Linked DNA regions of Homo sapiens. The protein of the gene in region 2 purifies or fractionates together with the protein of the main gene of each other region. This does not show direct contact. Each region holds a gene or a part of one and is shown on either strand. Other genes may lie near its edges. The genes, in order: UNG, SLC25A25 and ACP6.

What was found.
Region 1: the proteins of SLC25A25 (region 2) and UNG purify together in Homo sapiens (affinity purification with mass spectrometry; one large-scale study listed by BioGRID and IntAct). This does not show direct contact.
Region 3: the proteins of SLC25A25 (region 2) and ACP6 purify together in Homo sapiens (affinity purification with mass spectrometry; one large-scale study listed by BioGRID and IntAct). This does not show direct contact.

What each region holds. Positions count from the first base shown.
Region 1 is NC_000012.12:109,104,075-109,107,722, forward strand, and holds part of UNG (uracil-DNA glycosylase), read left to right. Parts: intron 1-3,648. UniProt on the Homo sapiens protein: Uracil-DNA glycosylase that hydrolyzes the N-glycosidic bond between uracil and deoxyribose in single- and double-stranded DNA (ssDNA and dsDNA) to release a free uracil residue and form an abasic (apurinic/apyrimidinic; AP) site.
Region 2 is NC_000009.12:128,106,232-128,109,893, forward strand, and holds the end of SLC25A25 (mitochondrial adenyl nucleotide antiporter SLC25A25), read left to right. Parts: coding exon 1-26; intron 27-121; coding exon 122-289; intron 290-797; coding exon 798-948; intron 949-1,028; coding exon 1,029-1,213; 3' UTR 1,214-3,014; downstream 3,015-3,662. UniProt on the Homo sapiens protein: Electroneutral antiporter that most probably mediates the transport of adenyl nucleotides through the inner mitochondrial membrane.
Region 3 is NC_000001.11:147,668,292-147,672,039, forward strand, and holds the start of ACP6 (lysophosphatidic acid phosphatase type 6), read right to left. Parts: upstream 2,234-3,748; 5' UTR 1,758-2,233; coding exon 1,539-1,757; exon of another isoform or gene 1,219-1,538; intron 1-1,218. UniProt on the Homo sapiens protein: Hydrolyzes lysophosphatidic acid (LPA) containing a medium length fatty acid chain to the corresponding monoacylglycerol.

The DNA.
Region 1 (3,648 bases), on a different chromosome or scaffold from region 2:
GTCTCGCTCTGTTGCCCAGGCTGTAGTGCAGTGGTATGATTTTGGCTCACTGCAACCTCCGCCTGCTGGGTTTAAGTGATTCTGCCTCAGCCTCCCGAGTAGCTGGGACTACAGGCGCCCGCCACCACACCCGGCTGATTTTTTTTTATTTTTTAGTAGAGACAGGGTTTCACCATGTTGGCCAGGCTGGTTTTGAACTCCTGACCTCAAGCGATCTGTCCTCCTCAACCTCCAAAGTGCTAGGATTACAGGCATGAGCCACCACACCCGGCCTATCGGTGATCATTATTAACCCCAAGGTCTAATTGCAGATACCCAACACGACCAAACCAGTGGCTCCCCTCCCTACATCTTCCCCCTATCTGCTACCTCCCTCTTTCCCTTCACTCACTGAAGCACTTCTACACCTGGTTGTGGAAATCAGAGACCTAAAAGTCATCCTTGAATCCTCCATCCCATCAGTAAATCCCATCAACTCTGCCTCCCAAAACACCCCAGTCTACTGCTTCTCATTCGCCACTGCTGCCCTTCAGGCATGAGTCACCATCATCTTTCTCCAGGAGAACCGTGATGGACTAGAGATGGAGGCTTGATGGAGAGCCGCAGAGTGGAGGAGGGAGAGATAGGGGGTGGGAAGGAGACGAGCCAGGGGTGTGTTCATCCCTGGCAAATGGGAGAGACATTGGGTGGGGGAGAAATTATAGAGTAAATGCTTCAATGATCGAAGGCAAGGGCTTAGCAGAGGTAACCTGACAATAGTTTTTGGTGTATCAGCAGGAGGTAACGGGGGTATCAGAAATGTGCACGTATATTTAACCCCTACCTTGTGTGGGTACTAGGTTGAGCACTTTTGTTTTTTGAGATGGAGTCTTTCTGTCACCCAGGCTGGAGTGCAGTGGCATGATCTCGGCTCACTGCAACTTCGCCTCCTGGGTTCAAGCACTTCTCCTGCCTCAGCCTCCTGAGTAGCTAGGATTACAGTTGCCTGCCACCACACCCAGCTAATATTTTTTATTTTTAGTAGAGACTGGGTTTCACCATGTTGACAAGGCTGGTCTTGAACTCCTGACCTCAAGCGATCCTCCCATCTTGGTCTCCCAAAGTGCTAGGATTACAGATGTAAGCCACCGCACCCGACCAGGTTGAGTACTTTGCATGCAGAATCTTACTTAACTCTCAGAAAGGCTTTGAGGTAGGCATACACTTGTATGAGTGACCTAAGATCTGACTGGTATGAACTGCTAAGATGTGATCATCTAGGTATGTAAGAAGTGTGCGTGAGAGTAATTGCTAATCTCTATCCCTTAGGGAGGTTTACGGCCAGTGTTGCTCTTCCGCAGTATATTGGTAATCTTTAATCATGGTTTGGTCTGAAAGTAAACAGTTGTTAAAGTAGCTTGGTCATTAAAGCCAAATTGCATATCTCCAGCCCAGTGTCTCTTCTGATCTATAGAGTGCCTTGTTACTACTGCCCCATGAACATGCCAAATTCAACATTTTCCAAACGAAGTTTCTCCTTTTCTCATCCATGCTTCACTAAACTTCCTCCTCTGCACTCCCTAGCAGCAAAAAGCACCATCATCTGCCCAGTTGTCCAGCCAGATCTATTACTGACACCTGCCTACCTCTCTTTCTCCCCTCTTCTGTCCTTTTTTTCCACCTTCCCAGTCAGTCAGTCATTCATATCTGTGTTCTTTCTTCCCCCTCCAAATCTACCCCTGCCTGACCACCTTTGCCTTCATTCAGGCCCTCACCTGATCTTGCCTGGAGGGTTCTGATGCTTTCTCCCTGGAAGGCCTTGCCTTAGGCTGAAGATCTGATTTCAGGGGGGTAGAGGGGTGGCCCCCAATCGGCCTCCCAGACTTAACTCTATCCCTCTTTGCACTCCGATCCCTAGGCTGACCCATTCCCCTTTACTTTTTCACGGTGCCCCACTTCCCTGCCTTTGCATATCCTGCTTTCTCTGCCTACAGTGTAGAGGTCATTTTCTTCTGGGATTCTTTAGAGCTCTGCAGGGCTGACATTTACAGGGGCCTGTGCTGCTTGCGTGTGTGTTCAGCATTTGGTGTGCATGACTTCTTATCACACTCAGCCCCTGTGATCCTCATTTGATTGGTCACAGTAACTTCATAAGCTGGGCGGTATTGTTATTCCCAGTCTACAGATGAAAACTGAAGCAGCTTAGAGTTGCAGCAACTTCTCTGTGGTACAGCTACTGAGGGTAGAGGTAGGCCTCGACCCCGGGCAGTCTGGCTCCAGGCTCTGTACTCTTAACCACACTGGATTGCCTGGCTTTAGTCCTCACCCCTCATCGCCCCTCCTGGACTGAGCCCCTTGAAGGCAAGAGTGTTTTGAGAAACAGTGATTTGTTCGTTAGTTTTTATATACAGAAAAGAAGAGGAAAACAAAAATGGTCTATATCTCCCTGTTAAAATAACTATAGTTGATATTTTAAAAAAATCAAAGTAGTCATTTGCCACATAATGATGTTTCAGTCATAAACTGTATATATGACGATGGTCCCATAAGATTATAATATTCTGGCCGGGTGTGGTGGCTCATACCTGTTATCCCAGCACTTTGGGTGGCCGAGGCGAGTGGATTGTCTGAGCTCAGGAGTTTGAGACCAGCCTGGGCAACATAGTGAAACCCTGTCTCTACTAAAATACAAAAAATTAGCCAGGTGTGGCGGCGTGTGCCTGTAGTCCCAGCTACTTGGGAGGCAGAGGTTGCAGTTAGCTGAGATCATGCCACTGCACTCCAGCCTGGCAACAGAGTGAGACTCTATCTCAAAAAAAAAACATATATATATATACACATATATATATACGTATATATATATGTGTATATATATATATATAAAAAATATTTTTACTGCATCTTTTCTATGTTTAGATACACAAATGCCTACCATTGTGTCACAGTTGCCTATAGTATTTAGTACAGTAACATGCTACACAGGTTTGTAGACCAGGAGCAATAAGCTACACTATATAGCCTAGGTGTGTAGTGGTAGGTTATCCCATTTGGGTTTGTGTAAAGATGCCCTGTGGTGTACGGATAGCAGTGAAATTGCCTAACAACACACTTCTCAGAATGCATCCCTGTCATTAGGTGATGTATGACTATTGCTTTTTTTCTTTTGAAACAGGGTCTAGCTCTGTCACCCAGGCTGGAATGCACTGGCTTGATCTCAACTCACTGCGGCCTCAACCTCCCAGGCTCAAGCAATCCTCCCACCTTAGTCACCTGAGTAGCAGGGACCACAGGCGTGCGCCACCACACCTGGCTAATTTTTGTATTTTTTTTTGTGGAGACAGGGTTTCACCACGTTGCCCAGGCTGGCTCTTGAACTCCTGGACTTAAACGATCCTCCTGCCTCGGCCTCCCAAAGTGCTGGGATTACAGGCGTGAGCTACCACACCTGGCCACTGACTATTCCTCTTTTTTTTTTTTTTTTTTTTTTTTCTGAGACAGTTTCACTCTTGTTGCCCAGGCTGGAGTGCAATGGCGTGATCTCAGTTCACTGCAGCCTCCCCCTCCTGGGTTCAAGTGATTCTCCTGCCTCAGCCTCCTGAGTAGCTGGGATTACAGGCATGTACCACCACATCCAGCTAATTTTGTATTTTTAGTAGAGACGGAGTTTCT
Region 2 (3,662 bases):
CCCAGAGCAGCATCTACCCAATGGAGGTGAGGGGCCGCCTGGGTCCTGGGGCGGGCAGTGGGCACAGGACTGGGGAGAGGCACAGGCTGTGCTCACGCGTCCCGCTGCTCCTGTTGTGCAGGTCCTGAAGACCCGGATGGCGCTGCGGAAGACAGGCCAGTACTCAGGAATGCTGGACTGCGCCAGGAGGATCCTGGCCAGAGAGGGGGTGGCCGCCTTCTACAAAGGCTATGTCCCCAACATGCTGGGCATCATCCCCTATGCCGGCATCGACCTTGCAGTCTACGAGGTGAGGCCCAAGCTGGACAGATTTAGAAACCTCCTCCCAGCACACCTCCACCTGCTGTCTCCCTCCTTGACGGACGCGTGGTTAGTGCAGGAAACTGCATCAAAGACTGCGCCTCCTTCCTGCTCTTCTGTTTACTGCAGCTTTCCTTCACCCTGCCTGCCCCTGGCAGACCCCAGCAGCTCCTGTGAGCCCTGCACCCAGGCTCTGCATCCCCAGAGGCTCAGCAGGCAGATCCCCAGAGCAGGGTGGCCCCCAGGAGCTCACAGGCCCCAGCACACTCTAGACAGACCCCAGAAGTCAGCCCTTCTGTGTGGGGAAGGAGGTGTTCCCTCTACCTTGTCCCGGAATTCCCAGTGACAGCAGAAACAGGGCAGCCAGGCTAGGAGCCCAGCCAGGCCCCAGGCGCGGCAGTCGGGTTCCAGTGGCCTGAGGACCCAGTAACAGCCCCGTCTCTTGCTGCCTCACTAGCCCTTCCTAGGGCTTATCCCATGCTCCCTTCTCCTTCTAGACGCTCAAGAATGCCTGGCTGCAGCACTATGCAGTGAACAGCGCGGACCCCGGCGTGTTTGTGCTCCTGGCCTGTGGCACCATGTCCAGTACCTGTGGCCAGCTGGCCAGCTACCCCCTGGCCCTAGTCAGGACCCGGATGCAGGCGCAAGGTAAGGCTGGCCCTGGACAGTCCCCTGGGAGGTCGGGGGGAGCGGACAGAAGCATCTGACTGGTGGCCTCCATCCTGCAGCCTCTATTGAGGGCGCTCCGGAGGTGACCATGAGCAGCCTCTTCAAACATATCCTGCGGACCGAGGGGGCCTTCGGGCTGTACAGGGGGCTGGCCCCCAACTTCATGAAGGTCATCCCAGCTGTGAGCATCAGCTACGTGGTCTACGAGAACCTGAAGATCACCCTGGGCGTGCAGTCGCGGTGACGGGGGGAGGGCCGCCCGGCAGTGGACTCGCTGATCCTGGGCCGCAGCCTGGGGTGTGCAGCCATCTCATTCTGTGAATGTGCCAACACTAAGCTGTCTCGAGCCAAGCTGTGAAAACCCTAGACGCACCCGCAGGGAGGGTGGGGAGAGCTGGCAGGCCCAGGGCTTGTCCTGCTGACCCCAGCAGACCCTCCTGTTGGTTCCAGCGAAGACCACAGGCATTCCTTAGGGTCCAGGGTCAGCAGGCTCCGGGCTCACATGTGTAAGGACAGGACATTTTCTGCAGTGCCTGCCAATAGCGAGCTTGGAGCCTGGAGGCCGGCTTAGTTCTTCCATTTCACCCTTGCAGCCAGCTGTTGGCCACGGCCCCTGCCCTCTGGTCTGCCGTGCATCTCCCTGTGCCCTCTTGCTGCCTGCCTGTCTGCTGAGGTAAGGTGGGAGGAGGGCTACAGCCCACATCCCACCCCCTCGTCCAATCCCATAATCCATGATGAAAGGTGAGGTCACGTGGCCTCCCAGGCCTGACTTCCCAACCTACAGCATTGACGCCAACTTGGCTGTGAAGGAAGAGGAAAGGATCTGGCCTTGTGGTCACTGGCATCTGAGCCCTGCTGATGGCTGGGGCTCTCGGGCATGCTTGGGAGTGCAGGGGGCTCGGGCTGCCTGGCCTGGCTGCACAGAAGGCAAGTGCTGGGGCTCATGGTGCTCTGAGCTGGCCTGGACCCTGTCAGGATGGGCCCCACCTCAGAACCAAACTCACTGTCCCCACTGTGGCATGAGGGCAGTGGAGCACCATGTTTGAGGGCGAAGGGCAGAGCGTTTGTGTGTTCTGGGGAGGGAAGGAAAAGGTGTTGGAGGCCTTAATTATGGACTGTTGGGAAAAGGGTTTTGTCCAGAAGGACAAGCCGGACAAATGAGCGACTTCTGTGCTTCCAGAGGAAGACGAGGGAGCAGGAGCTTGGCTGACTGCTCAGAGTCTGTTCTGACGCCCTGGGGGTTCCTGTCCAACCCCAGCAGGGGCGCAGCGGGACCAGCCCCACATTCCACTTGTGTCACTGCTTGGAACCTATTTATTTTGTATTTATTTGAACAGAGTTATGTCCTAACTATTTTTATAGATTTGTTTAATTAATAGCTTGTCATTTTCAAGTTCATTTTTTATTCATATTTATGTTCATGGTTGATTGTACCTTCCCAAGCCCGCCCAGTGGGATGGGAGGAGGAGGAGAAGGGGGGCCTTGGGCCGCTGCAGTCACATCTGTCCAGAGAAATTCCTTTTGGGACTGGAGGCAGAAAAGCGGCCAGAAGGCAGCAGCCCTGGCTCCTTTCCTTTGGCAGGTTGGGGAAGGGCTTGCCCCCAGCCTTAGGATTTCAGGGTTTGACTGGGGGCGTGGAGAGAGAGGGAGGAACCTCAATAACCTTGAAGGTGGAATCCAGTTATTTCCTGCGCTGCGAGGGTTTCTTTATTTCACTCTTTTCTGAATGTCAAGGCAGTGAGGTGCCTCTCACTGTGAATTTGTGGTGGGCGGGGGCTGGAGGAGAGGGTGGGGGACTGGCTCCGTCCCTCCCAGCCTTCTGCTGCCCTTGCTTAACAATGCCGGCCAACTGGCGACCTCACGGTTGCACTTCCATTCCACCAGAATGACCTGATGAGGAAATCTTCAATAGGATGCAAAGATCAATGCAAAAATTGTTATATATGAACATATAACTGGAGTCGTCAAAAAGCAAATTAAGAAAGAATTGGACGTTAGAAGTTGTCATTTAAAGCAGCCTTCTAATAAAGTTGTTTCAAAGCTGATCATGGAGCCAGTATTTTTCTGACGGGGGCCTGGGTGGTCTGGGGGTGCTGACATGTTAGAAAATGCGCCCTGTTTTCCCCTCTGGAGCCTGGTGGTGCCCCCTTTCGGCTTCTTAGAGGCGCTCCCTCTTTAATGGTTGCGTGTTCGATTTGGGGTGCCCTGAGTTGCTGTGTAGGGTCGTTCCTCAGCCTGTCTCAGGCAGGGTGCGGGGGATCTCTCCCTCCGCCGGAAGTGCCATCTTCACAGACACCGAGGACGTCGCTGGGCTTCTCTCCCCTCCCCCCAGCTGCCCCTCCCAGCCTCACCCCGCTCCTGCCTCCTCACACCCTCTCAGTAACCTCATCTGACTGAGGATTACCTTCAATATCTATATTTAGATGACACTCCTTTGATACTTGAACGAATTCCAGCTTCATCAGTACAACTGTGAAATCCACATCCACTTAAACAGCACCTCGAGTTCAGCATGTCAGAAGCCGAACCCTTCATTTTCCTCCCAAAATCTGCTTCTTCATTTTCCTCATGCCAGCAAATGGCAACTCCTTTCTTCTACGAACTTAAGCCAAACACCTTGTAGTCAACCTGACTCTGTACTTCCCTCTGGTTCCAGGGCAGTCCACCAGCAAATACCGTCAGCCCCACCCGCA
Region 3 (3,748 bases), on a different chromosome or scaffold from region 2:
AAGCTGGTATCCTAAGCTACAACGGACCTTTCAACCATAAAGGCAGAAGATATCCATCACACACCCACTCTCCCTTAGGGATAAAGCCCTAAAAGAATCTAAATCTTTTCCTAGTGCCTTCAGGATATATATATATATATATATGGTACATACTAGGTCTAGGCCTACACATTCAAAGTTTTACTCTCCATTACCACTGATAATTTTTTGTCTTCTACGTGAATATAATATATATTCCTACATGTGATTCCCCAGTCCTTCTGTACCAAGAATAAATAGAGAAGAATTGGGGGAAGGGGAGCATCAGAGATGGGCTGTATACAAAATCATAAGGAAAATTTAGTGATCTAATATAAAAAGGCAAAGTAAGAGACTGAAAAAAAAATCAAAGAATCAAAATGAAAGAAGAAATCCCGGTTCCAGAGAGCAAGTGGTAAAGCCAGAGTAAGGCTAACTAGAAACCTGGTAATAGAATTAAGTGCCTTCCAAATGTATTTATTTATGTGGAAAATGCTTTAGAAGTTTAATTTCATGTGCGGCCAACCTTGAAAAATGGGTTTCCAGTTGTACAATGTAAAGACACAATCCTGAAGGTTTCTAGAAAGCAACTGTTATTATGAAGAGTATACCTAACATCAATTTTGGACAATCTTTTCGACCTCCTCCAACATCAACCTGGAAGACCAACGATACAAAAGCACTCCACAGGTGTAATACCTGGGAGTTTGGGGATTTCAGGTTGCCTGTTCCTCTTCACTAGGCCTTTCTGCTATAAAAAGTCACATCCAGGAAAGATAATCATTTTTTTTTAAACTATTTGTGCTTTAGTCATAATTATCCTGACAAAACCAGACAGATTTTTAAAACATTACTGCCACAGACTAGCCCATTTTAAATTTGTTCCGACCTCAGATCCCTCCCACTATAGGTTTAGTAACCTTAAATAGAAAAGGAGAACCCTAGAATACAACACTTGTTACAAAAAAAAACTTCAGGAGATCTCAAATGGCCTCCAGCAAACCCTGAGAAAAAGCAGTTATAAAGTTTGTTTCCAAAGGCAACGACCTCTTATCCACTGTAATCTCAGTTAAGAGTGGTTCCTATCACTAAAGTCCCTTCAGCCCTTCAGCTCTGACAAACCACCTTCAAAATGGTCACACAGAAGTGCACTGCACCCTTGTATTCAAGTTCACCTAGACCCTTAATAGAAATGCTGACCTGGGGCACTACTCCACACCTGCTGAATCAGAATCTGCAACGTAGCAGGATCCCCAGGCGACTCCCATGCGTCTTAAGCAGCGCTTACTGATGGCTGCGCCATCAGGGCAAAACTGGAAGTTCCGGGGCTGTCCTAACCCCAGCAGGTCCTTTGCTCAAGAGCCTGGGGAGTCACTGGCTACTGCTGTTTTCCCTTCTTCTGGACCCAACCCGAGCCCCGCTCCGCGCGAGTAAAGCTCTGAAGATGTGTGTCAGGGCGAGACTCCTGGCCTGGCACACGGTCCTCGCCCCACCAGCCCCAGCCCGGGCCGACCTCTCACCTGCTCCTCCAGCGGGAGCGGCTTGAGAGGACTCCGAGCCCCGTGTCGAAACACGACCTGCACCATTTTCAACTTCAGCAGGCTGCGGTCGACCGGACACTGGCCATCGGCCTCCTGCAGCTCGGCCAGGGCCACCCGCCGCTGGTGCAGGCAGTACGCCAGCGAGGTCAGGACGCCCACTGGGGTCCACAAGCGCATGCTGAACACACCAGTGATCATGGTGGTAGGCCCTCGCTGCCCTCCGGGTTGAGGCTGCAGGAGGCAAACACAAGTCTTCTGCGGGCGCCGGGGCTCAGCGGGCGCCCCCAAGTCCGCGGGAACCTGCGGATGCGTACATCCAGCCCTTCAGCAAGCAGGGACCGCTGTGCCTCCCGGCCCTGAGGGAGACCCCGAGTGGGAACGGGGGAGAGAACAAGAGGTGGCAGCAGCGAAGAGTCCCTGGGAGTTTTAACCCGGGTCGGGGTTGGTCGCTCCTGCTGCACACCGGGCCGGGGGAGATCGGATCCTTATCTTTTGCCCGACGAGGAACATTAAACTTGTATTTCAAGTTTGGCCTCCAGCACTCTTGAAGGAACAGGAGCCGGCCCTGAGTTCCCTGGCGGCAGCGGCTCCACCAGCAAGGACTACTCGATTCCACTTTTCTATAAGCAAGCTCCTACCCACCTCCTCACCTACTCAGGGACCCGTCCCAAGTGGACCCGCGCACAGGAGCACGGGAAAACGAGTCCTGTGGTGACACCTCGCCTGGAGACTCAGAGCTGCGGAAACTACAACTCCCACAAGGCTGCGCGTACCGCGGCTCCCAAGAAGTGGCTTGTACCCGCCCCCCTCGCCTGCGGGCCTCGCCCCTCCGGCCCAGCCAGCCGTTTTCCAGGCGTGGATGGCCCACGGACGTGCCTGGTCCGGCAGTGGAGTGGTAGTGAATCTGTCGGGCCATGGAGTTTGCCAGGCAGGAGGATCGCGAGCGCAGGAGTAGAACTGGGTGGTGGAGGGGAGTAGTTTGAGTCTAGTTTTGAATGTAGAAGACTTCCTTCCAGTCCTGGAAGCCTGGTTGCTGCAGCGAGGAGCTGAGACACCTGCCGAGTGATTGCCATTTGCGAAACACAGCACTAGGTGCTTTATATTTAGTCATTTACTACTCCCTTCTCTGTTTTTAAAAAAATTCTCAAGCTTAAGTCATTGTAATCATGTAGAACTTTCAGGTCACTGATGTGTTTACTTCCATCCAGAATACTTCTTGTGGAAAAAGCCAGGCCTTGCCTGTGGGTGTCCCAGTGATTAAGAACCTAAGAGGCGCCATGGCTCACGCCTGTAATCCCAGCACTTTGGGAGGCCGAGGCGGGTAGATCATGAGGTCAGGAGATCGAGACCATCCTGGCTAACACGGTGAAACCACGTCTCTACTAAAAATACAAAAAAAAAAAAAAAAAAAAATTAGCCAGGCGTGGTGGCGGGCACCTGTAGTCCCAGCTACTCAGGAGGCTGAGGCAGGAGAATGGCGTGAACCCGGGAGGCGGAGCTTGCAGTGAGCCGAGATCGCGCCACACGACTCCAGCTTGGGCAACAGCGCAAGACTCCGTCTACAAAAAAAAAACAAAAAAAAACCTAAGAACACAGAACAATGCCAGCCTTACCACCTGCTAGTCTGGTTTCTGTTGATATACAGGTATCCCAAGCCTGTGTTTCCAGATCTTTGCAACAGGACACAATCTGGGACCCACTATGTGTCTATCTCCAAAGATCAAACTGGGCCAGATGTAAAGACAACATACTTACAGAGCATGGCTCCTGGCCTGAGAACAAATTCTGTTCACCAAGCTGGAAGGTTCTGAGTGCTCCCCTCCCTGATGCAGGGAGGAGGGTCATTTTGGAACACTACATATTGTCACAATTTTCTCCCTAGCCCAGCCAAGGGACTCACTTTTCAGAGTCTTATTGTGTGTGCTGATGTGATTAAAAATCGAATACTGTTTGCTATGGACTCAGTTGTGTCCCCCGCCAAATTCGTACCCACTAAGTGACTGCATTTGGACATAGGACTTTTAGAAGGTGATTCTGTCAGAGGCATTTGAACCATAGTGACTCCATCTTGAATAGCGGCTGGGTAAAATGAGGCTGAGACCTACTGGGCTGCATTCCCAGGAGGTTAGGCATTCTCAGTCACAGGATGAGGGGGGAGGTCAGCAGGACTGGTATCACAAGAAACCAGT